Homo sapiens: one gene and its partners. The protein of the gene in region 2 purifies or fractionates together with the protein of the main gene of each other region. This does not show direct contact. Each region holds a gene or a part of one and is shown on either strand. Other genes may lie near its edges.

Region 1 (3,500 bases), on a different chromosome or scaffold from region 2:
CTTCTAGAATTCCAATTAAATGTATGTTAGACCCTGCTCTATCTTTCATATCTCTATACTCTCTTCTGTGTTTTTCATCCTTTTGTCTATTTTTCCATGCTTTATTCTGAATAGTTCCTTCTAATCTACCTTCCAATTAACTAATTTTCTCTTTAGCTATATCTAATTTGCTGTAATTAATTACAGTTGCCATTTTTATCCTAAAATTTCTATTTCATATTTTTGTATCTGCCATGGTACTTCTTATGGCTTTTAATTCCCTGCTAACTATTTAAAGTTCTTATTTTATCCTGTGAATATGATATTCCTAGTTATTTTATTTTTAATTTTTATTATTTGTTAATCTTATGTTTTATTTACACTTCTTTTCTGTGACATGAGCACACACAGATTCATGTGTATACATATATGGCTCTGATACCTCTCCTTTCCTGTCCTCATTCAAACCACTGATCACAGAGAGAGGACTATTTTTTTTTATTTTTAATTTTTCTATTTCAATAGGTTTTTGGGGGAACAGGTGGTGTTTGGTTACATGAATAAGTTCTTTAGTGGTGATTTTGGTGCACCCATCACCCAAACAGTGTACATTGTACCCAATGTGTAATCTTTTAACCCTTGCCACACCCCACCCTTTCCCCGCAGTCCGCAAAGTCCCATGTATCATTCTTATGCCTTTGCTTCCTCATAGCTTAGCTCCCACATATGAGTGAGAACATACAATGTTTGGTTTTCCATTCCTGAGTTATTTAATTAAAATAATAGTATCCAATTCCATCCAGGTTGCTGTGAATGCCATTATTTTGTTCCTTTTTATGGTTGAGTAGTATTCCATGGTGTGTTTGTGTGTGTATAACATTTTTCTTTATCCACTCATTGATTGATGGGCATTTGGGCTGGTTCCATATTTTTGCAATTGCAAATTGTGCTGTTATAAACATGTGTGTGCAAGTATCTTTTTTGTATAATGACTTCTTTTCCTCTGGGTAGATACCTAGTAGTGGGATTGCTGGATCAAATGGTAGATCTACTTTTAGTTCTATAAGGAATCTCCACACTGTTTTCCATAGTGGTTGTATGAGTTTACATTCCCACCAATGGTGTAAAAGTGTTCCCTTTTCACCACATCCACACCAACATCTATTATTGTTTGATTTTTTATTATGACCATTCTTGCAGGAGTGAGGTGGTATCACATTGTGGTTTTGATTTGCATTTCCCTGATAATTAGGGATGTTGAGCATTTTTCCATATGCTTGTTGGTATTTGTTTTTTTTTTTTTTTTTTCATTATTATACTTTAAGTTTTAGGGTACATGTGCACAATGTGCAGGTTAGTTACATATGTATACATGTGCCATGCTGGTGTGCTGCACCCATTAACCCGTCATTTAGCATTAGGTATATCTCCTAATGCTATCCCTCCCCAATTCCCCCCACCCCGCTTGTTGGTATTTGTATATCTTCATTTGAGAATTCTCTGTTCATGTCCTTAGCCCACTTTTTGATGAGATTTTTTTTTTCTTGCTGATTCGTTTGAGTTCTTTGTAGATTCTGGATATTAGTTGGATGTATAGATTGTGAAGATTTTCTCCCATTCTGTGGGTTGTCTGTTAACTCTGCTAATTATTTCTTTTGCTTTGCAGAAGCTTTTTAGTTTAATTAAGTCCCATCTATTTATCTTTGTTTTTGTTGCATTTGCTTTTGGGTTCTTGGTCATGAAGTCTTTGCCTAAGCCAATGTGTAGGAGGGTTTTTCCAATATTATCTTCTAGAATCTTTATGGTTTCAGGTCTTAGATTTAAGTATTTGATCGATTTTGAGTTGAATTTTGTATAAGGGGAGAGAGAAGGATTCAGTTTCATTCTTCTACATGCAACTTGCCAATTATCCTAGGACCATTTGTTGAATAGGGTGTCCTTTCCCCATTTTATGTTTTTGTTTGGTTTGTCAAAGATCAGTTGGCTGTAAGTGTTTGGCTTTATTTCTGGGTTATCTATTCTGTTCCATTTGTCTACGTGACTATTTTTATACCAGTACCATGTTGTTTTGGTGACTATGGCCTTACAGTATAGTTTGAAGTCTGATAATGTAATGCCTCCAGATTTGTTCTTTTTACTTAGTCTTGCTTTGGCTATGTGAGCTCTTTTTTGGTGCCATATGAATTTTAGGATTGTTTTTTCTAGTTCTGTGAAGAATGATGGTGGTATTTTGATGGGAATTGCATTGAATTTGTAGATTGTTTTTGGGAGTATGGTCATTTTCACAATATTGATTCTACCCATTCATGAGCATGGGATGTGTTTCCATTTGTTTGTGTCATCTATGATTTTCTTTCAGCAATGTTTTGTAGTTTTCCTTGTAGAGTTCCTAGTTATTTTAAAGTCTGTGTTCGGTCTTTCAGCATTTAAAGTTTGTAGGTTTATTACTATTTCTCTTCTTTCTGTTGGTCATAACTCTTAGTGTTTTGTTTCCTTGTGTGCCTGGTTACATATGTGCTGGTCATTGTATTTGAAAATTATGTGTGAAATAATTTGAGGTTTTGGATTATGTATATTCCTCCAGAAAGAATTTCATTTGCTTCTGTGCATTTCTTAGGAACATTACAAGTCCTTCTTCTCAGTTAATTTTCGTAGTATCTTTATCAGATAGGTGCTATTACAACCACTCACTTAGCAGATGAAAATCATGAGGCTCTGAGAGTCTAAGTCATCTACTTAGAATTGGACAATGGTGAAGCCAGGATTCAAACCCACATCAATAAGAATCCAGCGCTCTTAACAAGGGGCCAGTACACTTTTTTAAAAAATAAAAGGCTAGATAGTAAATATTTTAGACTTTGTGGACTGCACAGCCTCTGTTGCAACTACTCAACCCTGCCTTTGTAGCATGAATGCAGTCATAAACTATACATAAATGAATGAGCCTGGATTCGTTCCAAGGAAACTTTATAAAAACAGGTGGCAGGCTGGATTTGGCCCATGAGAAGTGTAGTTTACACAAAAGTTGAGCAAACCAATTTTTTTCTGATTGTTTTTCCTCTTCTCAGTGTAAGAAGAAGCTTGGGAAGCTGCCACCTCAGTATGCCCTGGAGCTCCTGACGGTCTATGCTTGGGAGCGAGGGAGCATGAAAACACATTTCAACACAGCCCAGGGATTTCGGACGGTCTTGGAATTAGTCATAAACTACCAGCAACTCTGCATCTACTGGACAAAGTATTATGACTTTAAAAACCCCATTATTGAAAAGTACCTGAGAAGGCAGCTCACGAAACCCAGGTATGCTATCCCCACATGGCTTAGCTCCCCTATGTAAATGAACACCTGGATACAGGTACAGTGCCTTGGAAATGGAGGAGGTGGGAGGGCTCCCCACTTAGTGAGAATCTCCTGTTGCCCATCATTGTACTGGGCATTTTACTACTGCCATCTGTTTTAAACACCTACCTCCAACCCTGTGAGGCAGGCACTATGCCAATTATTTTACAGGTGAGTAAACTGA
Region 2 (3,500 bases):
TGGTCACAAACTCCTGAGCTCACGCAATCTGCCTGCCTTGGCCTCCCAAAACGCTAGGATTACAGGCATGAGCCACCGCGCTCGGCCAAGACATCCTTTCTTTACCAATTTCTTATAGGAGAAGAGAATTCTGAATACAAGGACAAATAATGGTGTAATCTCTAAAGAGCTTTCCCCACTGTTTTCCAAATAGTACCTCTTCAACATTGCAGGCTGTTTTGGCTGAAGTTTCCATGAATATAAGTCCATGCTCCCTAGCAAAGGCCTCTCCTTCTTCTCTCTTCACATCCCTGCGGGACTCTAGGTCACTGCAAGAGATTAATTAAGGAGAAAATTTAAAAAAAAGATCCAAGTGAAAGAGGAAAGTCTATTTCTAAAAGAATTCCGTCGTGGTTTCAACTGCCAGTTATTTCATAAAGAATGTAGATCCTACATGATACTCTTATACAGAGTTACTGATTTTTGTAGCATCTTGGAAAATATTCTTTAGTTTTGGGACAGCTGCTGCATAGTTGAAGATAATACCTCACTCTATTACAGAGAAAATGGCTTATCAAGGGTTAGGCAAGCCCCCATAGTTACACAAAGCTTATGCTCTATTGCTTGTTTTTCCAATGAGATCAAGGAGAGCAAAGTATAGATGAGGAAAAAAAAAAACTTGGCTGGGCACAGTGGCTCATGCCTGTAATCCCAGCTCTTTGGGATGCCGAGGCAGGTGGATCACGAGTTCAGGAGTTCAAGACCAGCCTGGCCAAGATGGTGAAATCCCGTCTCTACTAAAAATACAAAAATTAGCTGAGTATGGTGGCAGGTGCCTGTAATCCCAGCTACTCGGGAGGCTGAGGCAAGAGAATTGCTTGAACATGGGAGGCGGAAGTTGCAGTAAACTGAGATCGCGCCATTGCACTCCAGCCTCAGCGACAGAGCAAGACTGTCTCTTGGGCGGGGAAGAAAAAAAGGAAAACTCTAGTTACTAGAAAGCAGAAAAGTCATAAGATGTCCCATCCAGCAGTGATGAGCATCTTCCTTTTTTACTGGAATCAAGCCACAAGAAGAGAATGAGCCAGGAATAAGGAAAACACAGTTGTCTTAAGTCTCACTGGTTTCGTTACTAGTGCATATAAAAGCAGCTTGCCACCAGGGAATTCAGAGACAGTGATATGGATAAAATTAGGTGAAAAAAAAGATAAGAGCTAAGGACTGAAAAAGGGAATAAAAATGGCAACAAAAGACCTTATGAAAAACAGGATAAAAGGCTGCAGAGCTGGGCGTGGTGGCTCATGCCTATAATCCCAGCACTGTGGGAGGCTGAGGCAGGAGGATTACTTGAGCCCAGGAGTTTAAGAACAGCCTGCACAATACAGTGAGACCCTGTCTCTACAAAAATTTAAAAATCAGCAGAGCGTGGTGACACATGCCTGTAGTCCCAGCTACGTGAGAGGCTGAGGTGAGAGGATCTCTTGAGCCCTGGAAACAGGTTGCCGTGAGCTGAGCACGTTACTGTACTCCAGCCTGGGCAACAGCACGAGACCTTGTCGCAAAAAAAAAACAAAACCAAAAAAACAAACTGAAGAATAAGGCAAGGTTGGGCTGTTTGTGATTCGTATTTTTCAATTTGAAAATTTTCATTTGGGAGGTTTCCAGTTTTCCAACTCCTTGGAAAAAAAGTGTAAGACCATTAAAGAACAACAAATCTACAATATTTTAATTTATTATACCATCAGCTGTGTGAAGACCAGGGAAGATCTAAATGTCAACCCTCCCAAATTTGTACCTCTAGCCCAGATGCTTGACTAAGCACCAGATTTGTACATTTGTGAATTCTTCATTTCCACACTGATACATAAAACGGACTTCAAACTTAACACATCAAAATGGAACTTCTTTTCCCCTAGCCTGTGTTTGCTGCAGGCTTCTGTATCTCAGTAAATGGCATAAGCCAAAAACCAAAGTGTTATTATTGATACCCTTTGCTCCCTACTCCAAATATCTAATCCATTCCAAAGTGAAGTACTTCCAATATGTACCTTAAAATTATCCTTTCTTTCTCTTTCCAGGGTCACTTCCTAGACCAAGCTACCATTCTTTCTCATGTGGACTATTGCAACTGGGATACTACTTCAGTCCTTGTTCTCCTCCAGAGTGATCTTTTAAAATCTGATCAAGCCACTTCTCTACTTAAAACTTTAAAATGCTTCAGGTGTATTTATTTATTATTATTTTTAATCCCCCATCTCCCAAGCTTCAATTTCCATGTATTTAGAATAAAATCCAAAACCCTTACTCAGGCCTCTAAGGTGCTATAAAATCTGGTCCCTACCTACTTTTCCAACCTCATCTTGCACTATTCCCTCTTGATTTAGTCCAATCACACTAGGTTTCTTTCAATAAACGTGTCAAGCTTCTTCCAAGTTCAAGGTGTTTGTATAGTTTGTTCCCCCCAAGTAATACCCTTTTAAAAAAATCTTTGCCCAGCAGGCTCTTGCCCATCCTTCAGATCCCAGCTTAATATCACTCCTAATCAAAAGTAGGTACCCTGTTATTCTTTCGTAGCACCCTTTTTCCTCCATTGCATTTATCACAATTTACAATTTGATACAAATAATTTTATATTTAACATCTATGCCCCCACTAGACTGTAAGCTGCACAAGAGCAGGGGGACGACTTTTTTCCACCTTGCAAACTCAGAATCTGGCACAGTCGTTTTCAATACATTGACTGATACACTAAAAATAATTAGCAGGATGGGTGTGGTGGCTCACGCCTGTAATCCCAGCACTTTGGGAGGCCGAGGCAGGCGGATCGCCTGAGGTCAGGAGTTCAAGACCAGCCTGATCAACATGGAGAAACCCCGTCTATACTAAAAATACAAAAAAATTAACTGGGCTTGGTGGCACATGCCTGTAATCCCAGCTACTCGGGAGACTGAGGCAGGAGAATCGCTTGAACCCAGGAGGTGGAGGTTGCAGTAAGACGAGATCATGCCATTGTGCTCTAGCCTGGGTGACAAGAGTGAAACTCCATCTCATAACAAACAAATGAAAACAAACAAACAAACAAAAAACCAATTAGCCTGTGGCCACAGTTCTCAAATAGTACACTCTGGGCACTACTACAAACTCACAAGGGTGCCATGGGATACCTCAAACTTTTGAGAAAAACACAGTAACACTCAACACAAGGATACTTACTACATGAATTACAAGCTTAAGACAGTTGCAATGTCAATATCAGACCATGATAAAATTCGTTCAATATCTTCATATCTCTGAGAAGCTGTTTCTGGCAGTTGCTGTTATAAAAAAGCAAGCACTACACAAAAATCAATATGAAATGGGAAATGAGAGTAGCAGTGTGCAATCGTGATTCCAAGGTTTGAGAAGCTATGCAGTGCCCAACAGACACATAGAGGTCTTTAGTAAGTAACTGTTGCTATTTAAGAATGAAATAATTTTTTTTTTTTTGAGACAAAGTCTCACTCTGTCGCCCTGGCTGGAGT
Region 3 (3,500 bases), on a different chromosome or scaffold from region 2:
TCACCGTTGTTTGGAGTGCCACATGGGGACAGAAAATAGCCAACTGCCGCACTGGCTCATTGTGAGTGTTGAAAAAGATAGTCATGGCAACCAGGACATCATAGCTGTGAGCCTGGCAGAAAGCATGGAGATCTGCAAGGAGGTTAGACCTCTGCAGAAAGGCCTGAAAGGGAAGAAACGGAGAGGGATGAAGGACTTTCTCATCATCATCAATAAAACATCCTTGGGCCGGGCACGGTCGCTTACGCCTATAATCCTAGCACTTTGGGAGGCCGAGGCAGGTGATCACTTGAGGTCAGGAGTTCGAGACCAGCCTAGCCAACATGGTGAAACCCTGTCTCTGGTAAAAATACAAAAATTAGCCGGGCATGGGGGCATATGCCTGTAATCCCAGCTACTCAGGAGGCTGAGGCAGGAGAATCGCTTGAACCAGGGAGGCGGAAGTTGCAGTGAGCTGAGATTGCGCCATTGCACTCCAGCCTGGGGGACAAGAGCGAAACTCCGTCTCAAAAAACAAAAACAAAACAAAACAAAACAAAAAATTAGCTGGGCATGCCGGCACGCACCAGTAATCCCAGCTACTAGGGAGGCTGAGGCAGGAGAATTACTTGAACCCGGGAGGCAGAGGTTGCAGTGAGCTGAGATCATGCCATTCCACTCCATCCTGGGCAACAGAATAAGACTCAGGCTCAAAACAAACAAACAAACAAACATACATACATAACTGCTAGAGGTTTTTTGAGCATAGGAGATAGTACTTCAGTTAGGGTGGTCAGGAAAAACCTCCCAAAACAAGAGACATCTGAGCTGAGTACCTGAATGTTAAGAAGGAGCCAGCTTTACAAAGAAAAAAGCTCAGCTGGGAATGAGCTTAATGGTTCTGAGGAACAGAAAAGAAACCAGTGTGGCTGCAGTACTGTAGAACAGGAGTGGAGCTGGAATGAGATGAGGCCAGAGAAAAAGACAAGGGCCAGATCAAGCATGGCGCTGTAAACCACAGTAAGTCCTTTAGATTTTATTAAAAATACAATGAGGCCGGGCACAGTGGCTCACGCCTATAATCCCAGAACTTCGGAGGCCAAAAGGAGAACTGCTTGAGGCCAGGAGTTTGAGACCAGCCTGGGCAACATAGTGAGACCCCATCGACACATACATACACGCGCGCGCACACACACACACACACACACACACACACACACACTAGTTAGGTGTGGTGGTGTGCACCTGTGGACCCAGCTACTCGAGAGGCTAAGGTGGGAGGATTGCTTGAGCCTGGAAGGTTGAGGCTGCAGTGAGCCATGATGGTACCACTGTACTCTAGCCTGGCAACAAAGCATGACTCCCTTAAAAAAAAAAAAAAAAAATTAAAAAAGACCACTCTGGCTGCTGCGGGGAGAATGGTTTGTAGGGCTGCAAAAGCAGAGGCAGGGACACCAGTACTGAGGCTAATACAGCGGTGCAGTGAGAGATGCTGGACTCTGGTGGTCACAGTGGAGGTAGAGACAAAGATAGACACAAGATACATTTTGGAGGTGAGCCAGGAATGAGGTGCAAGGCCACATGCATAACATGCATAGCTAAAGGCTTTCTCTCCCCACCCACAGCCACAACTTGCTCTTACCTCCAAATCCATATATATTGCACTAATGGCCACCTTGACGCCTTGTCTATAGATAGTCTTCTGGTCTTTTCTCAGCATCTGCTCAGTGGTCAGTCCTAGAAAGCAGATGAGAGACTAGGGGTCAAACAGGGTAGGCCAGGGTCCCAAGACCAAGAAGGCAAGGACAGCCAGATGGGTCAAGGAAGGAAAAACAGCCTCTCTTTGGGGCAATGAATGGGGGAGATAATTGAAAATGTAATCATAGCCGGGCGCGGTGACTCAGGCCTGTAATCCCAGCACTTTGGGAGGCTGAGGTGGGCGGATCACCTGAGGTCAGGAGTTTGGGACCAGCCTGGTCAACATGATGAAACTCTGTCTCTACTAAAAATACAAAGAATTAGCTGGGTGTGGTGGCGGGCACTTGTAATCCCAGCTACTCAGGAGGCTGAAGCAGGAGAATCACTTGAACCTGGACTCTGTCTCAAAAAAAAAAAAAAAAAAGAAAGAAAGAAAATGTAATCACATAATCAAAAGCCATCTTAAATAACTGGTGACAATAGGTACCTTTAGAGCAAGTAACTTTGGAGAGAAGGATGAAACCCAGAACAGAGGCTTTTACTTTTTATCTTTCCCTCTTCCTATACTGTTTACATGTGAGTTCTTTCTTTCTTTCTTCCTTTTTATGTCAACAGGTGGTAGCTGAGTACAAGAATACAGTTTTTTTTGGGTTCTCTTCATCTTTTGTTTACTCACAAAATATTTCTTTTGCCTCCCTAACCAATTCTATAGATTTCACTCTGATAATTTAGTATACTCTCAGCATATTTTATATATATGTCCTGTATTCTCTGAATAGACTGGAACCTATGAGGCTCTTTTTGTTTTTTTTTGAGACGGAGTTTCGCTGTCGTTGCCCAAGCTGGAGTACAATGGCGCAATCTCGGCTCACTGCAACCTCCACTTCCCGGGTTCAAGCGATTTTCCTGCCTCAGCCTCCTGAGTAGATGGGATTACAGGCACACACCACCACGCTCAGCTAATTTTTCGTATTTTTAGTAGAAACGGAGTTTCACCATGTTAGCTAGGCTGGTCTTGAACTCCTGACCTCAGGTGATCTGCCCACCTCGGCCTCCCAAAGTGTTGGGATTACAGGCGTGAGCCACTGCGTCTGGCCCTTCTGAGGCTCTTAATACATTCCTCCTCATCCTAACCAAGAGCCAGGATAGAACAATCCAGTAAATGACTGATTATTTCATGCTTAGGCTAATATGGTACTTCATTTCTTTCTGGTATAAAATTTAAATAATTGGCCAGGCGCGGTGGCTCATGCCTGTAATCCCAGCACTTTGGGAGGCCCAGGCGGGCAGATCACCTGAGCTTCAGAGTTCAAGACCAGCCTGGTCAACATGGTGAAACCCGATCTTTACTAAAAATACCAAAATTAGCTGGGCGTGGTGGTGGGCGCCTGTAATCCCAGCTACTCGGGAGGCTGAGGCAGGAGAATCGCTTGAACCCAGGAGGTCGAGGTTGCAGTGTGCCAAGATTGTGCCACTGCACTCTAGCCTGGGTGGCAGAGCAAGACTCTGTCTCAAAAAAAAAAAAATAATATAATGAACAAGGCTTGCCTTTCTGTTTTCTTATCTGGGAGGCAGAAAAGTCAGCTAACATTTCATACCTGATACATCAAACTTTGCCTTTTGTAGGGAATCAAATATATCATTTCTCTTGGGTAGGTCTGGGAAAAGGGCCTCTAGTTTCTCCACATATTTGCTGTCCTTTGGGGTTGCCTTTCCAATTTTAAGGTCCATGTTGACACAGTCCAGGATGATGGTTCCTGTGGAGAAGGGAGATGGTGGAACTTGAATCCTGTGACCCTTCACACACAACCACCAGAACATAT
Region 4 (3,500 bases), on a different chromosome or scaffold from region 2:
AGGGTAATTTGCAATGTGCTTACAAAACTATACCCTTAATAGACCCTGGATAAAGGCTGGAACGATGTCGCTGAAAAATAAATGTTACCAGTGACCTGGAGAGGAGGAATGGCTATAGCAGAGGAATGGAATGAGCTTGGAATTCAAAGACACACAACACCAAATAGCAACGTGATGACTCCTCTAGTTCTTATTTTCAGAGTAAAAGAAGCAGCAGGTGCACCTGTAGATTCAGATGAAGGTGCATAAGGAGACTAGGCAGCCATGGGTAACACCTCACAAGGAAATGAGCGTGTTATCTGTATAGTGGTGTCACTCTGGCTGAATGTCAATTTAGGTGATTACTTAAAGGCCATTCACCTGATAGGGCTGGGGGTCCCAGGGGTGAGAGGTGGGGAGGGGATTCTTGCTCACCTTGAAATCTGAGCTCTGCACCAGGAAGCAGAGGTCAAAGGGCATCCCCTTCTGGAAAGGCATGTGTGTCTTCCTCTCCTCGGGCCCCCAGCTTCCGTTCTGCCTCGTGTTGCACACCACGTACCCTCCATCTTCAAACCGAGGGTTGAAGTGGAAGGCAATGTCATTTCCACTGAAGCCAGTCTGAAAGTTCACAGCAAACCTAGGCCCAGGGAAAGCAAATAGTCTTCTGTGGCATGGATTATTGCCAGTGACAGGCACAGGAGGGCCTCGGCGCCTGTGCTTTGCATTTGTCTGGATCTTGCACACAACCTGTATGGCAGAGACTGCTTTGTTGGCATCGTTTTTGTTTTTCTAATTGGGATCTAATGTGTTTTTGTTTTAATTATTGGATTTTGCCTTTACAGCATGATTTGCTAAAAGCAAATAGAAAACGGTTAAGGAAAAGTGCTGGTATTAGCAAACAAGAAACATAGGTCTTGGAAAGTGATTACCAATTGATACCGAAGATGGAAGTTGTTAAGCACACCTAGAAGAGAGAGCCTTCTGTGCCAGTGGACACTTGTTGGAGGCCAGCACATGCCTGATTAAATGGGAAAGAAGAGAACAAATGTAAAGAGCATGTGAAATTGGGGCTGGGCGCAGAGGCCAAGGCGGGTGGACCACTTGAGCCCAGGAGTTTGAGACCAGCCTGGGCAACATAGTGAGAGCTCATCTCTAGTTAAAAAAAAAAAAATTGGCTGGGCATGATGGCTCACGCCTGTAATCCCAGCACTTTGGGAGGCTGAGGCATGTGGATCACGAGGTCTGGAGTTCGAGACCATCCTGGCCAACATGGTAAAACCCCGTCTCGACTAAAAATACAAAAAATGAGCCAGGCATGGTGGCATGAGCCTGTAGTCCCAGCTACTCAGGAGGCTGAGGCAGGAGAATCACTTGAACCCAGGAGGCGGAGGTTGTAGTGAGCCCAGATAGCGCCACAGCACTCCAGCCTGGTGGCAGAGCGAGACTCCATCTCAAAATAATAATAATAATAATTAGCTGGGCATCATAGTGCACTCCTGTAGTCCCAGCTGCTCCGGAGGCTGAGATGGGAGGATCACTCAAGCCCAGGAATTTGAGGCTGCAGTGAGCTATGATCATACCACTGAACTCCAGGCTGGGTGAAAGAAAGTCCCTGTCTCAAAAGAAAAAAATTAATTAATTAAATGAATAAATGGAGAAGATTGCATTTGAAATATATCTGCATGTATTTTTTCCTTTGGAGTCCTTCAGCTTCATCCCTGTAGTCCTTTCGAAATTCCTGCCCCAAGGAAGGGAGAGACAGAAAGCTCCCAAGAGGAGAGGGCCCTCTGAGGTAGGATCTGTCTCTATATGACAGGATGGGAGTGGGAAGCCCTCCTGGTGCTGGGGGGTGGGGGAGGTGGAGGGAGAGGGAGAGAGGAAGGGGCGGAAGATCAGGGTCATGGTCCTGATTCCCCTGGTTGGAGGGTTCAGGGAGATCGGGGCCTCCCTGCCCTTGGCATCTCCTGAGGGCACCGCAGTCTCTCAGAGAAGTCCCACAGCAGGATGGCAATGGCGGAGGAGGTCACCAAGAATCTAGGTGTCCAAGCTGAGGTTTAGCTGGGATCTGTGAGGCCCAGAAGGTCTTAAGGAGAGGTCCCCTGGGACTGAGGCAGAGAGGCTTCCGAGAGAGAGTCATGAGTCCAGAGGCTCTTCTGTGGGCCCCGCAGAGTTCAGCAGGCAGCCACCCATGGTCCCCCACTAAACCAGGAGAGAGCTGCACACCTCTGTGCCACCCGGTCGGGGTGCCTCGGCAGGGGTCAGCCAGGCCTGAGTGAGGGTCTAGAGCCCTCCCAGCCACTGAGAAGCCATGTGAGCTCTTCTCTGTTCCCAGACAGCCCACCTTGGGAGGGAGGAGGGGGTGGGAAACAGCCCTGATACAATGTTAGTATGTTGAATTGACTTAGTAGTTTCTAGAAAAGGCCTTGAAACCAAAAGAGACCAAATTACTTTTGATGGCAATTTTCAATATTTTCACATCAGCAGAAGGAGAGCTTCAGAGTGGATGAGAGCAGTTACGGGAAATGGAGGAAGTTTGATTTTTGCAACTCTTAGTCACAGTGTGCAAGGTTCAACCCAGAACATAATCATCCAACTCTGACCATCCCACGCCCTCCTTAGACCGTCAGCTCCCAGGGCCCCATTCATCCTGGAGTCCAGGTTAATGGCACCCCTGGGTGCAGGTTGTGCCTGTGGAGTGCTGCCCTGTGGCATGGGTTAGGGACGCATTGGGCCTCCCCTGAGCCAGGCACGTGAGCTTGGATGTTGCTGTTTGAACTAACCCAGGCTCACAGGCACAGTGGTTTACTAAGGGACGAGGCTGGAGTGAAACGTTTCCATCCATATACACACACACCTGGTTCCACTGGAGCTGAGAACGGTCCCATTGACAGTGATCTGAAGTCCGTCCTGGAGACCTCCTTGAATAGTCCCAGAAAAGGGGACAGCCTGCAGGGAGAAGGTGTGGGAACATCAGTCAGGTGGCCGGCCTCCCGTTTGCTCCCCTCCAGCGCTAGTCAGTGGCCAGCCTGGGTTTGACAGCCCCATGCAAGGGGATAGGGTGCGGCTGTGACCAGTACAGAGGGAGTCGCAGCCCCACGGGTCTTAGGGTCCTGTGTGGAGGCAAACACAAATCCAATTAGTTACTCAGACAGTCTAAGCTTGTGATAAGGAGAAGCCTGGCCCTGAGAGGACGCGACAGGGAGCTGAGCTTGTGTGAGAGTCTAAGAGGCAGTGGAGGCTGCAGCAGGAATGCACCAGGCAGAAGGCCTTCCTTCCAGGCAGGGAAGTAGCAGGCAGACACCCTGGGCTGCTAAGGAATTAGGTAGCAATGGGGGCTGCTGGACCCCATGCTAAGCTCCCAGCAAAGGTCCCAGGCCCTGGCTGGAGACTCAGGAAGCCCAAGGGACCAAAGGGACCCATCAAGGGTCTGGAGGGTAAACCTTCGACTCACCCGAGGAGGTTAAGAAGAAGCCATCCCCCTCTCCCCACCACCACCATATAACAATGGCCACTGTGACCTT
Region 5 (3,500 bases), on a different chromosome or scaffold from region 2:
AGCCTGTCCATTTCTCTTTTTTTAATGAAAGCTTTTCGGGAATCACGAAGAAGATTCTTAACCCAGTGACGACCAAACTCAAAGATGTACAGAGGCAGTTAAAAGCACTGCTTCCTCCTGATGCTGTGTTAGTGGGCCACTCCTTAGATTTGGATCTCAGAGCACTGAAAGTGAGTATCTGATTTAGGACTTTGCATTTTCAGTATAAATGCCTGTTCCATTTATCTCAAATCTAAAGTCTTGGGCTCTTCTCTCCCACCCTGCTAGCCCACTTGTTTTTTCCTTTAGCATAAGACACTACTCATTTTATTCTCTTTCTTCCTCAGATGATACATCCATATGTTATTGATACATCGTTGCTTTATGTCAGAGAGCAGGGCAGAAGATTTAAGCTCAAGTTCTTAGCCAAAGTTATTTTGGGGTAGGTTTGCTTATATGCTGTAATATTGTTCTGACAAACTGCATACAAGTTAGCATGTAGTATCTAATTTAATGCATATTGCAAAATTCAGGGTTTCTGCTCTCTTTGCTTTAAACATGTTTTTTTGCATTTCTTATGAAATGAAGAAATTGTAGCAATAGAGACAGGGGTTTACATTCACAGTCGAGGCTTAATGGACAGAACTGAACCATGAAGGCAGAAGAGGTAACCAAAATTTCAAAACATAACATACCTATATGCCTATACAAGGTAGTATAACATACTTATACTGTCCTATTGTATTAAGACACATATGTACAAAGGTGTTCATTATAACATGGTTTAAAATAGCAAAATAGAAAACCTCAAATATTCTAGAAGTCTGGTTGAGTAAATTATGGTTATCTGTATTATTGAATATTTTGTTGTTCAGAAGAATATGATAAATCTGTTTGTGATATGAACACCTCTCTAAGACACTCCTGAGAATAAGGGATGCAGAGCAAGATCTATATATGCCTCAATATTTATATGATATAGATTAGATTTAGTTCTATCTATAAATATATACATATATTAAGCTTTTTAAAAACACCTAAGAAAGTATTTAAGTATGTATAGACACTTATATACAAATAAAAAAGTTTCAGGAAGGCAACTTTAAACAATGGTTAGATCTGAGAAATGGGCCTGGTCCATTTCTTAGAGAAGGGCCTGGCCAGGGAGTCAGCCAGAAACTTTTTGTTGGGTAGCCTTTTGTCCGGATGCTATGCTTGCTGTGAACAAAGCTATTCCTGATTGTTTTGCACCCCCAGTTCCTCTCGCAGGGCTGGGCAATTAGCTGGAATAAAGGAACCTTGATTTTTGTGATGCAAATCTAATTATCAGAATTCTAACATTTTATATGTAATCAGAACACTTGAGATGGTTGAAAAAGCCTATCATTAAAAGTGCTTCCAGTATGTCAATTTTATATTGACTTTCCAGGAAGGATATACAGTGTCCAGACAGACTTGGTCATGATGCCACAGAAGATGCTAGAACAATCCTTGAATTGGCTCGGTATTTCCTTAAGCATGGCCCAAAAAAGGTTAGTATCTTTGCCCAGTGTGTTCACCTTTTCTTAAAATCATGGGACTAGATCAGATTATCACAGACTACCAACTCCTATTATCTATTTTTATGAAAATGGCAGTGTGGGCCAGGTGCAGTGGCTCATGCCTGTAATCCCAGCACTTTGGGAGGCCAGGGTGGGCAGATCACCAGGTCAGGAGTTCGAGACCAGCCTGGCCAATATGGTGAAACCCCGTCTCTACTAAAAATACAAAAATTAGCCAGGTGTGGTGGCGCGTGCCTGTAGTCCCAGCTACTCCAGAGGCTGAGACAGGAGAATCGCTTGAACCAGGGAGGCAGAGGTTGCGGGGAGGCAGAGGTTGCAGTGAGCCGAGATTGCACCACTGCACTCCAGCTTAGGTGACAGAGCAAGACTTCATCTCAAAAAAAAAAAAAAGAAAAGAAAATGGCAGTGTGATTGAATCCTAAAAAAAGAAAATGGCAGTGTGATTGAAGCCTAGCATGTATTTCGAATTAAGACCCATATCACTAGCATAATGTGGTTAAGTATATAGTCCCTGCAGTTGGGCTTATCTGTTTTAAAATATATGTTCTACTATGTCTAGCTGTATAATCTAGGGCAATTTCTCTGAACAACATCAGTTTTTGGATCTATAATATGGGAATACACACTTTTCTGGGATATTGTTGAGAGTAAATGAGATATTGTGTATAAAATTCTTAGCACAGTGTCTTGAATATACTAAGCACTATCCTGGTGGTGTGGTGATTATTGTAGTTAATACTAATAATTATAAAAAATCTGCATAGATTTTTGTTTTCTTGGAGTAGGGGGAGCATACAATTGTTTCAACAGCAGTTCAGTGGGTAAATGTTAGAACAACACATAAGGGAGACATGGAAGAGGACATAGTCTCTGACAAACTTTATTATAATGCATTCTAACCTATTAGATTGTCCCATTGCATAGTACATTCCATCATGACTCCATTATGAAATAAATTGTACTCCACATAGAATAATAAGTAACAGCCAGAATAGTCTTTTGTGTCAGGTGGTAGAAAGACATTCTAACAGATCTTCTTTGAGCATATAGATAATAATAGCCACCACTCACTGAGGTCTTAAGTGTACTGTTCTAAAATGCTGTATATACATTATCTTATTTAATCCTCACAACAGCCCTGTGAGTTAGCTATTATCATTCCAATTTTATACATGAGCCTTTCGAGGTTACCAAAGGTTAGATAACTTATCTGAGGTCCCACAGTCAGTCAGAGGTGGAACCAGAATTGAAACCCAGGTCTGTCACATTCTGTCTTTTCTGTATACCAGGGATTAGCAAACTTTTTCTGTAAAGGCCAACTAGTAAATATTGTAGGCTTTGCAGATCATATTGTCTTTATTGCAGCTACTCAACTTGCTGTGGTACTGCAAGAGCAGCCATAGACATTATGTCAACACTGGTGGGCACAGCTGAAATAAAACTTTATTTATTTACAAAAAAATATGTATTGGTGTCTGCTAATCTCTGCTCTAAATCACTACAATAGGTTCTAAAACCCTTTTGGTCTCATGACTCTTTTTATATTGTTACCCACACAATGGTGTGTTCAGTCACTTAGTGGGTGTTAACCCAATGACCACTACCAAGGAATATTTATTTTTATTTTTATTTTTTTTGAGACAGAGTCTCACTCTGTTTCCCAGGCTGGAGTGCAGTGGTGCGATCTCTCTTCACTGCAGCCTCTGCCTCCCCGGTTCAAGTGATTCTCCTGCCTCAGCTTCCCGAGCAGCTGGGATTACAGGTGCCTGCCACCACACCTTGCTAATTTTTTTTTTTTTTGTATTTTTATTAGAGATGGGGTTTCACCATGTTGGCCAGGCTGGTCTCAAACTCCTAACCTCAGGTGATCCACCCATCTCAGCCTCCCAAAGTGCTGGGATTACAGGCATGAGTCACTGTGCCTGGCCCAAGAGGATTTAACAAGGGGATTTTATTACT
Region 6 (3,500 bases), on a different chromosome or scaffold from region 2:
AAGGGAGAAAAGCAATATACACTCTGCACTCCTTAACTAGATATTAGCTAAGTATTGTACCTGAACACAAATCTACATCTCTTTTATATTGAGCAGCATTTTTATGCCAACTAAGGTATCCTGTTACTCTAACTGATAAAAGATTAAGTCTTTTACTGTTCCTTTTATATAAATATGAGAATAAAGAATGAGAATAGCCTTACTGGGATTATCTAGTATACTATTGCCAAACTTAACATAATTATCACTTGGCATACTTATTAAAAGTAATAATTTCCTCTCTCAGAGTCTTAACACAATTGATTTGGGATGGTAACTGGTAACTTGTAGCAATAGTAAGAATCTCAGGTGATTCTTATGAAATGGTACCTTTGGGAAGCACTGTTCTAGTGGGACTACTGAAGGGAAAGGTTTCCATACTTTCTCCTTATGGTTGTAGTCTTCCTTGACTACCATGGGTATGTGTAACTGGAGTGTTCAAAAAGGACATTCATAGATCCAGTGTCCCAGCTTTATGAGAGGATCCTAGAAAACACAGTGCCTTCAACCTGAAAAGCTGAGTGGGAAAAAAAGGAGAAAAGAAACAGTGTTATGGTAATATAGTAGAAGGAAAATTAAATTCAGTTGGAGGACATCAAAGAAGGCTTAATGAATGAGATGCCATCTGAATTGAGGAATAGAGTGGAATAAAATCCAACAATGATCAATTTAGTGAGAATGTAATGGGGACAACAGGATCCTAGTAGGTGTTTGCTTTATTTGGCAGAGAGGTTATAACTTAACATTTTGCACATTAGGCTTAGAGTAGCTTAGTGATTAAGAACATAGACTTTGGGCCGGGTGCGGTGGCTCACGCCTGTAATCCCAGCACTTTGGGAGGCTGAGGTCAGGAGTTCAAGACCAGCCTGACCAACATGGAGAAACCCCATCTCTACTAAAAATACAAAAATTAGCCGGGTGTGGTGGCGCATGCCTGTAATCCCAGCTACTCAGGAAGGCTGAGGCAGGAGAATCACTTGAACCCGGGAGGCGGAGGTTGCAGTGAGCTGAGATCGCATCATTGCACTCCAGCCTGGGCAATAAGAGTGAAACTCCGTCTCAAAAAAAAAAAAAAAAAAAAAGAACATAGTCTTTGATATTAGATCTGACTTTATATTTCAGCTCTGCATCTTACTAGTTTCAGACAAGTTACTGAACCTTTCTAAACATCAGTATCCTTATGTGTAAACTCGGGTTAATCATCTTATTCGTCATGGGTTTGTTTTGAGGCTTAAAGGGTGTCATGTATATAAAGCATAAAATAAAGCAAAGCAAATACTAAGTAGTCTTTCCTGGAGGGAGCTTGAGACTGGAGATCCAGGGTAGAGATGTAGATTTTTGGTGTACAATCGTAGTCGAAATAATCAGATGAGCCAGATACATTACAATTTCTAATTGTAATGGTGAGACGTCGTCATTTTAGCACCTACTGACCATAGGTTGCTTAGGAAAGCAATAATAGGAGTAACTTTTTGTTATATTAGACATTTTTTTTTTTTGAGACAGAGTCTCACTCTGTTCCCAGAGTGGAGTGCAGTGGCATGATCTTGGCTCACTGCAAGCTCTGCCTCCCGGGTTCATGCCATTCTGCTGCCTCAGCCTCCCGAGTAGCTGGGACTACAGGCGCCCACCGCCACACCTGTCTAATTTTTGTATTTTTAGTAGAGACGGGGTTTCACTGTGTTAGCTAGGATGGTCTCCATCTCCTGACCTTGTGATCTGCCTGCCTCGGCCTCCCAAAGTGCTGGGATTACAGGTGTGAGCCACCGCACCCGGCCTATGTTAGACATTTTTTCTACTGTTTGGTTGACATGAGAACAGTGCTTTCTAACATTTTTTTTCCCACATTTAATTCAGAGTCCTGCGTTGGTACTTTGTGGTCAGACATTAAAAAATAATGTTTTCTGCCAATATTGTGTTCTACCTCCTGCTCTATTCTGGGAATCATCAAATTCATGGAGCCTAGGTATTCTCTGGGTCTGCAAATATCCTCCTAAAGAGAGAACATGTGTTGTTGGACTGGTAGCAGCTTCTTTAGTTATCACTCATTGAATTCTAGTTGTGATAACATTGATGGATGGTAGTTGCCCTTGGCTGTGTCTTGATCTAATAATTTCACTTATGAAAATTTATTTATTTAATTTTTTTTTTTTGAGATGGAGTTTCACTCTTGTCGCCCAGGCTGGAGTGCAATGGCATAATCTCGGCTCACTGCAACCTCTGCCTACGAGTTTCAAGCGATTCTCCTGCCTCAGCCTCCTGAGTAGCTGGGATTGCAGGCATGTGCCAACACGCCCGGCCAATTTTTGTATTTTTAGTAGAAACGGGGTTTCACCATGTTAGCCAGGCTGGTCTTGAATTCCTGACCTCAGGTGATCCTCCTGCCTTGGCCTCGCAAAGTTCTGGGATTACAGGCGTGAGCCACTGCACCTGGCCGAAAATTTATTTTAAAAAATAATTCAACAAAGAAAAAGTTGAAGCTTAGAACTTTTCAGTATATATGAAATTTTTACATTTTCAGTGTAAAAACTTGTAACCAGCTTAAATGTCAATTAATAAGCAAATGATGATATATCATGGTCCCTATAGAATAATTTGCTATAAATAAAAATTATGGCAATAGTACACTATGGAAATTATTTTCTCTATAGTGAGCAAATAAGACAACATACAGAATGACACCTACAATGATTATAGCTATGTTATATAAAATTCAAAAATAACTTTGTACTTATCAGTGTGTGTAGTGTGTTAGAAACCAGTGTTGAAATATAAAAGAAGTAAATAAATCTTTTCAGTAGTGAGGTGAAAGTTTTGACTTTAAATAAGAGGGCTAAATCGGTTGCTCTTGTTTGAAGAAGGGCTTTTAATCAGTGCTGGGGGAAAAGGAAAAGTGTGGCAGTACACTGACCTCTATAAAGACATCAGGTGATCCTGGGTGTGGTGGCTCACACCTGTAATCCCAGCACTTTGGGAGGCCTAGGCGGGCAGATTGCTTGTGCCCAGGAGTACCAGACCAGCCTGAGCAACATGGTGAAACCCCATCTCTACAGAAAATACAAAAATTAGCTGGGTGTGGTGGTGCACACCTGTAGTCCCAGCTATTTGGGAGGCTGACATGGGTGGACCGTTTGAGCCCAGGAGGCGGAGGTTGCAGTGAGCTGAGATCATACCACTGCACTCCAGCCGGGGTGACAGAACCAGACCCTGTCTCGAGAAATACAAAAACAGAAACCCAAAAACAACTTTTTTTTTTTAAAGACATCAGGTGAAAGGTAGAAGGGCAATAGGTGAGTCTGTGTCTTACTGAGAATAAAATATCTAAGCATGGGAAAAGGAGATCATAAGAGGCAAAAAATGACGTGATTCACCTTTGTGCAAAGCTGTAGTAAGGAACACACGAAGCAGAGCTCAGGTGCTTCAGTTGTCTTCCCAGAATTTTCTCAAAAATTCTGAGTAAA
Region 7 (3,500 bases), on a different chromosome or scaffold from region 2:
TATCCAGGAGCAAGTAACATGACAAACAGATCATTCAGATAACGTATACAGATAAGAGTATGACCTTAAAGCAGGTTTTCTCAACCTCAGCACTATTAACATTTTAGGCCAGATAATTCTTGGTTGTATGGACCTGTCCTGTGCATTGTAGACATTTAGCAGCAGCCGTGGCTTTTACCCACTTGATGCCAGTAACTCCCTCCTCCACTGTGACAACCAAGAATGTTTGATTATGATATATTATGTTAGGGTCAGTGTTCCCAGTAGAGAACCACTGTTCTCAAACAGTGCTTCTGAAACCTGCCTGCACATTAAAATTACCTGGGAAGTTAAATACAAAAACAAACCGAAAGGGCCCAGACCCCACCTTACACCCATAGATTTGATTGTGAAGTAGGACCTTGATCTCTATGTTATGTTGGTGGTGTTTTGGTCGTTTGTTTTTAAGCAGATTCTAATGAGCAGTTTTTAAGCAGATTCTAATGAGAAGCACCCCTGTGGAGAATACCACTTTGGGACTTAGACTTCTTGAGTAGTTTTGATTGTCTAGTGTTGAAATTTCAAGTAAATTACTTGAATTTTTTGGGCTTTATATTCTTCAGTTAGAAAATCAAAGAGATGGACTAGATCATTTCTAAATTTCTTAATTTTGAAAAAAATGCCAACTTGTTTTTATAGCCTTTTGCATAAATTCTCTTACTACATAGCTTTTACTGACAGGAAGATCTTTGTTTTATCCATTGTCTGACCTCAAGTCCTTCATGTTTTCCTCCACTTTTGTCTCTGTCTTCTTTTTGCCCTTTTCCTTAATAACGCTTTAATAAACTGTATTAGTAGATGCTTAATTGTACCTGACTATAAATATAATCATTTACTTTATGTATTATATCAAAACCAAAAAACCCTGTTAGAGCTCTCCGGGAGGGTTAGATGTAGTATTGCAGGTCCTTTATTAGTTCAGTAAATATTTGAGTGCATACAAACAAAGTGGACCTTCTCTCATGAGACATAATTACCACCAAGGGCAGTGATTTTCACACTTTGTTGCTATTATGTAGAGGTTTTTCCCATGTCTAAAGGTTTATTGTGTTTGGAGAAGCACATTCCTCTGGGGAAAATGGTTACAACCAAGAGTCTATAGAAAAGGCCTGTAGTGTTATAGACTGTGATTAGATCCTAAAGTCGTTGTTACTCTTGTCCCTCCAAATCATGGCAAAGACCAAGGATAATGGCTTCCATTTATTGCGTGCTTATTGTGAGTAGGTAAGCACAATTACTGTATAAGGTATAGTAATGATTAAAATAATTATTGGAAGCTGATTAGAAAAGTTTAGGTATCCTGCCCAGAGTCATGTGGTCAGTCTAGTGAAATTGGCCAACTTGAAATTTGACTGCAGAGTCTGAGCTTTGAACTACTGTACAACACTGCTTCCCACATAAAGGAGTTCCACTGCCCTTAATATAATCCTGATCTTACCTAGATAAATTACCTCTCTAATTCAAATAGATCTCAGTGTGTTGTTAGGATTAAATTGAGATAATATATGAGAAATGTCCCAGCTCAGTGTCTAATACATGGTAATAGTCTCTCAATAGGATGTTTCCCAAATATTTATTTCTGAAGTGCACCCAAATCTCTGTAGTTTTAGTTTTTGCCCTTAAGCTTTGGTTGGAATTAAATTACTTTCTGATATCTCCTCCTGTTATCTAATGGATGCTGCTAGTCTTTTTCCACCAGGGATCAGAGCGATAATTTGCCCTTAAAAAAAAAAAAAAGAGAAGAAATCACTATTTTCTCATCTCTCCTAAAGTTGGTACAGATTGAGCATCCCTAATCCAAAAATCTGAGAGACTCCAAAATCAGAAACGGTTTGAGCACTGACATGAAGCCACAAGTGAAAAATTCCACACATAAGTGCTTAACACTAACTTTGTTTCATGCACAAAATTGTTAAACTATTATATAAAATAAGCTTCGTGTGTAAGATGTATATGAAATTTAAATGAATTTCATATTTAGATTTGGGTCCTGTCCCAGTGGGGTATCATCTCATGTATATGCAAATATTCTAAAATCAAAAAAAAATCTGAAATCTGAAACAGTTCTGGTCCCAAGCATTTCAGATAAGGGATACTCAACCTGTAGTACTATTCTAGATAATAGTACTCTAGATGCACAGGAGAGAAGTAAATTTATTACATACAGTGGATACCTCAGGACATTAAGGCTTAACTATTTCTTAGAATCTTCATTGAAAAGATTACAGAATACATCAGGTAGCTCTGCTGTAAAATTTTAGACCAGATAATTTGAAGTGTTAATTTATTACTATTAGTCATATGAATTGTTAGATTATGGAAATGATGTAACAGTACTCAATCAAGCTATACTAGAGACTGCTTCTCAACATGAAAGGAATTATATATAACAAATTCTTTGTGTTCAAAGCCATCGGTAAGATACTGATTTTTATATGAAAGCACAGGTTTAGATTTCTGATTTATAGTGTACAGTTTCAGAGGGGGAAGGTTTTGCTCTATAGTTTTTCATTCTGCCAAAGAATGCTCCTCTCTGGGAAAATAGAGTGTAAGTACATTTGTATTTTTTTAAATGTTTTATATTTCTCAAAGCTTATTATAAATCTTTTCCCAAGGAATCATGTTATTTGTGAACACCTTTGAATTAAGACATTATTCTCATATTCCTCCAGAATTAAATACAAGCTATAATTGATCCTGACAAATTAGTGAAAATTGACATTTTCACATATTTCTAAGTCCTGTACTATTTGTACTGATTAGTTGTAGAGAATCCTTTTTTAAATCTACTTTAGCCTTCAGTTTGGTGATATTCTGGCTTCAGTGGGTCTTGTTTGTGTCAATGGGGTAGGATTGGTTTCTTAACCCCCAAATGTCCCCTTTTGAAAAATTGAAACAAAAGGCTTGACTGATAGTATTAAGTTACAAGAATATGTATATATATATTTTTTGCTTTTGCAAGGTGGAAGTATTGTTTAAATTATTGGAAAATTAGAATGATTTTATTATTTTTCTAGACCAGGAAGACTTCAGACTTAAGTGGTATGATAGTTAAGATGGAATTTTACATTTTTTTCTTTTAGGTTGACAATTGCATTTTTTGCACTCTCCGGGCTGGATATGTTGGATTCCTTAGATGTGGTGAACAAAGATGATATAATAGAGTGGATTTATTCCCTGCAGGTCCTTCCCACAGAAGACAGTGAGTGAGTTTTTAGCATTTTATTTTTAGTGTGACTGGTTGTACCTGACATAACATGTGTTGGACTAGAAAATCTTAGTACTTGTATACTGTTAACATATTTTATTTATCTGTGATTTTGTTGTAATGCAGCATTGCCATTCTGTTGAAATACAGTACTTAACAAATCTGATCATAATCTCAAGAAAACAATTTAGAGTTATCTGGAATTTAATAGAGATTCACAGTTGTGGCACCATACTATGTTGTATACTTCCAC

Evidence for each region.
Region 1: the proteins of RAB2B (region 2) and OAS1 purify together in Homo sapiens (co-immunoprecipitation; one large-scale study listed by IntAct). This does not show direct contact.
Region 3: the proteins of RAB2B (region 2) and PRUNE1 purify together in Homo sapiens (affinity purification with mass spectrometry; one large-scale study listed by BioGRID and IntAct). This does not show direct contact.
Region 4: the proteins of RAB2B (region 2) and LGALS9 purify together in Homo sapiens (co-immunoprecipitation; one large-scale study listed by IntAct). This does not show direct contact.
Region 5: the proteins of RAB2B (region 2) and REXO5 purify together in Homo sapiens (affinity purification with mass spectrometry; one large-scale study listed by BioGRID and IntAct). This does not show direct contact.
Region 6: the proteins of RAB2B (region 2) and BCAS3 purify together in Homo sapiens (affinity purification with mass spectrometry; one large-scale study listed by BioGRID and IntAct). This does not show direct contact.
Region 7: the proteins of RAB2B (region 2) and PGGT1B purify together in Homo sapiens (affinity purification with mass spectrometry; one large-scale study listed by BioGRID and IntAct). This does not show direct contact.

The regions. Positions count from the first base shown.
Region 1 is NC_000012.12:112,913,462-112,916,961, forward strand, and holds part of OAS1 (2'-5'-oligoadenylate synthase 1), read left to right. Parts: intron 1-3,047; coding exon 3,048-3,277; intron 3,278-3,500.
Region 2 is NC_000014.9:21,463,460-21,466,959, forward strand, and holds part of RAB2B (ras-related protein Rab-2B), read right to left. Parts: intron 2,412-3,500; exon of another isoform or gene 2,058-2,411; intron 309-2,057; coding exon 197-308; intron 1-196. UniProt on the Homo sapiens protein: The small GTPases Rab are key regulators of intracellular membrane trafficking, from the formation of transport vesicles to their fusion with membranes. Rabs cycle between active GTP-bound and inactive GDP-bound states.
Region 3 is NC_000001.11:151,025,449-151,028,948, reverse strand, and holds part of PRUNE1 (exopolyphosphatase PRUNE1), read right to left. Parts: intron 3,435-3,500; coding exon 3,276-3,434; intron 1,717-3,275; coding exon 1,622-1,716; intron 164-1,621; coding exon 5-163; intron 1-4. UniProt on the Homo sapiens protein: Phosphodiesterase (PDE) that has higher activity toward cAMP than cGMP, as substrate. Plays a role in cell proliferation, migration and differentiation, and acts as a negative regulator of NME1. Plays a role in the regulation of neurogenesis.
Region 4 is NC_000017.11:27,637,688-27,641,187, reverse strand, and holds part of LGALS9 (galectin-9), read right to left. Parts: intron 2,926-3,500; coding exon 2,834-2,925; intron 617-2,833; coding exon 415-616; intron 1-414. UniProt on the Homo sapiens protein: Binds galactosides. Has high affinity for the Forssman pentasaccharide. Ligand for HAVCR2/TIM3. Binding to HAVCR2 induces T-helper type 1 lymphocyte (Th1) death.
Region 5 is NC_000016.10:20,827,027-20,830,526, forward strand, and holds part of REXO5 (RNA exonuclease 5), read left to right. Parts: intron 1-31; coding exon 32-170; intron 171-326; coding exon 327-421; intron 422-1,408; coding exon 1,409-1,511; intron 1,512-3,500.
Region 6 is NC_000017.11:60,684,351-60,687,850, forward strand, and holds part of BCAS3 (BCAS3 microtubule associated cell migration factor), read left to right. Parts: intron 1-3,500. UniProt on the Homo sapiens protein: Plays a role in angiogenesis. Participates in the regulation of cell polarity and directional endothelial cell migration by mediating both the activation and recruitment of CDC42 and the reorganization of the actin cytoskeleton at the cell leading edge.
Region 7 is NC_000005.10:115,252,878-115,256,377, reverse strand, and holds part of PGGT1B (geranylgeranyl transferase type-1 subunit beta), read left to right. Parts: intron 1-3,122; coding exon 3,123-3,241; intron 3,242-3,500. UniProt on the Homo sapiens protein: Catalyzes the transfer of a geranyl-geranyl moiety from geranyl-geranyl pyrophosphate to a cysteine at the fourth position from the C-terminus of proteins having the C-terminal sequence Cys-aliphatic-aliphatic-X.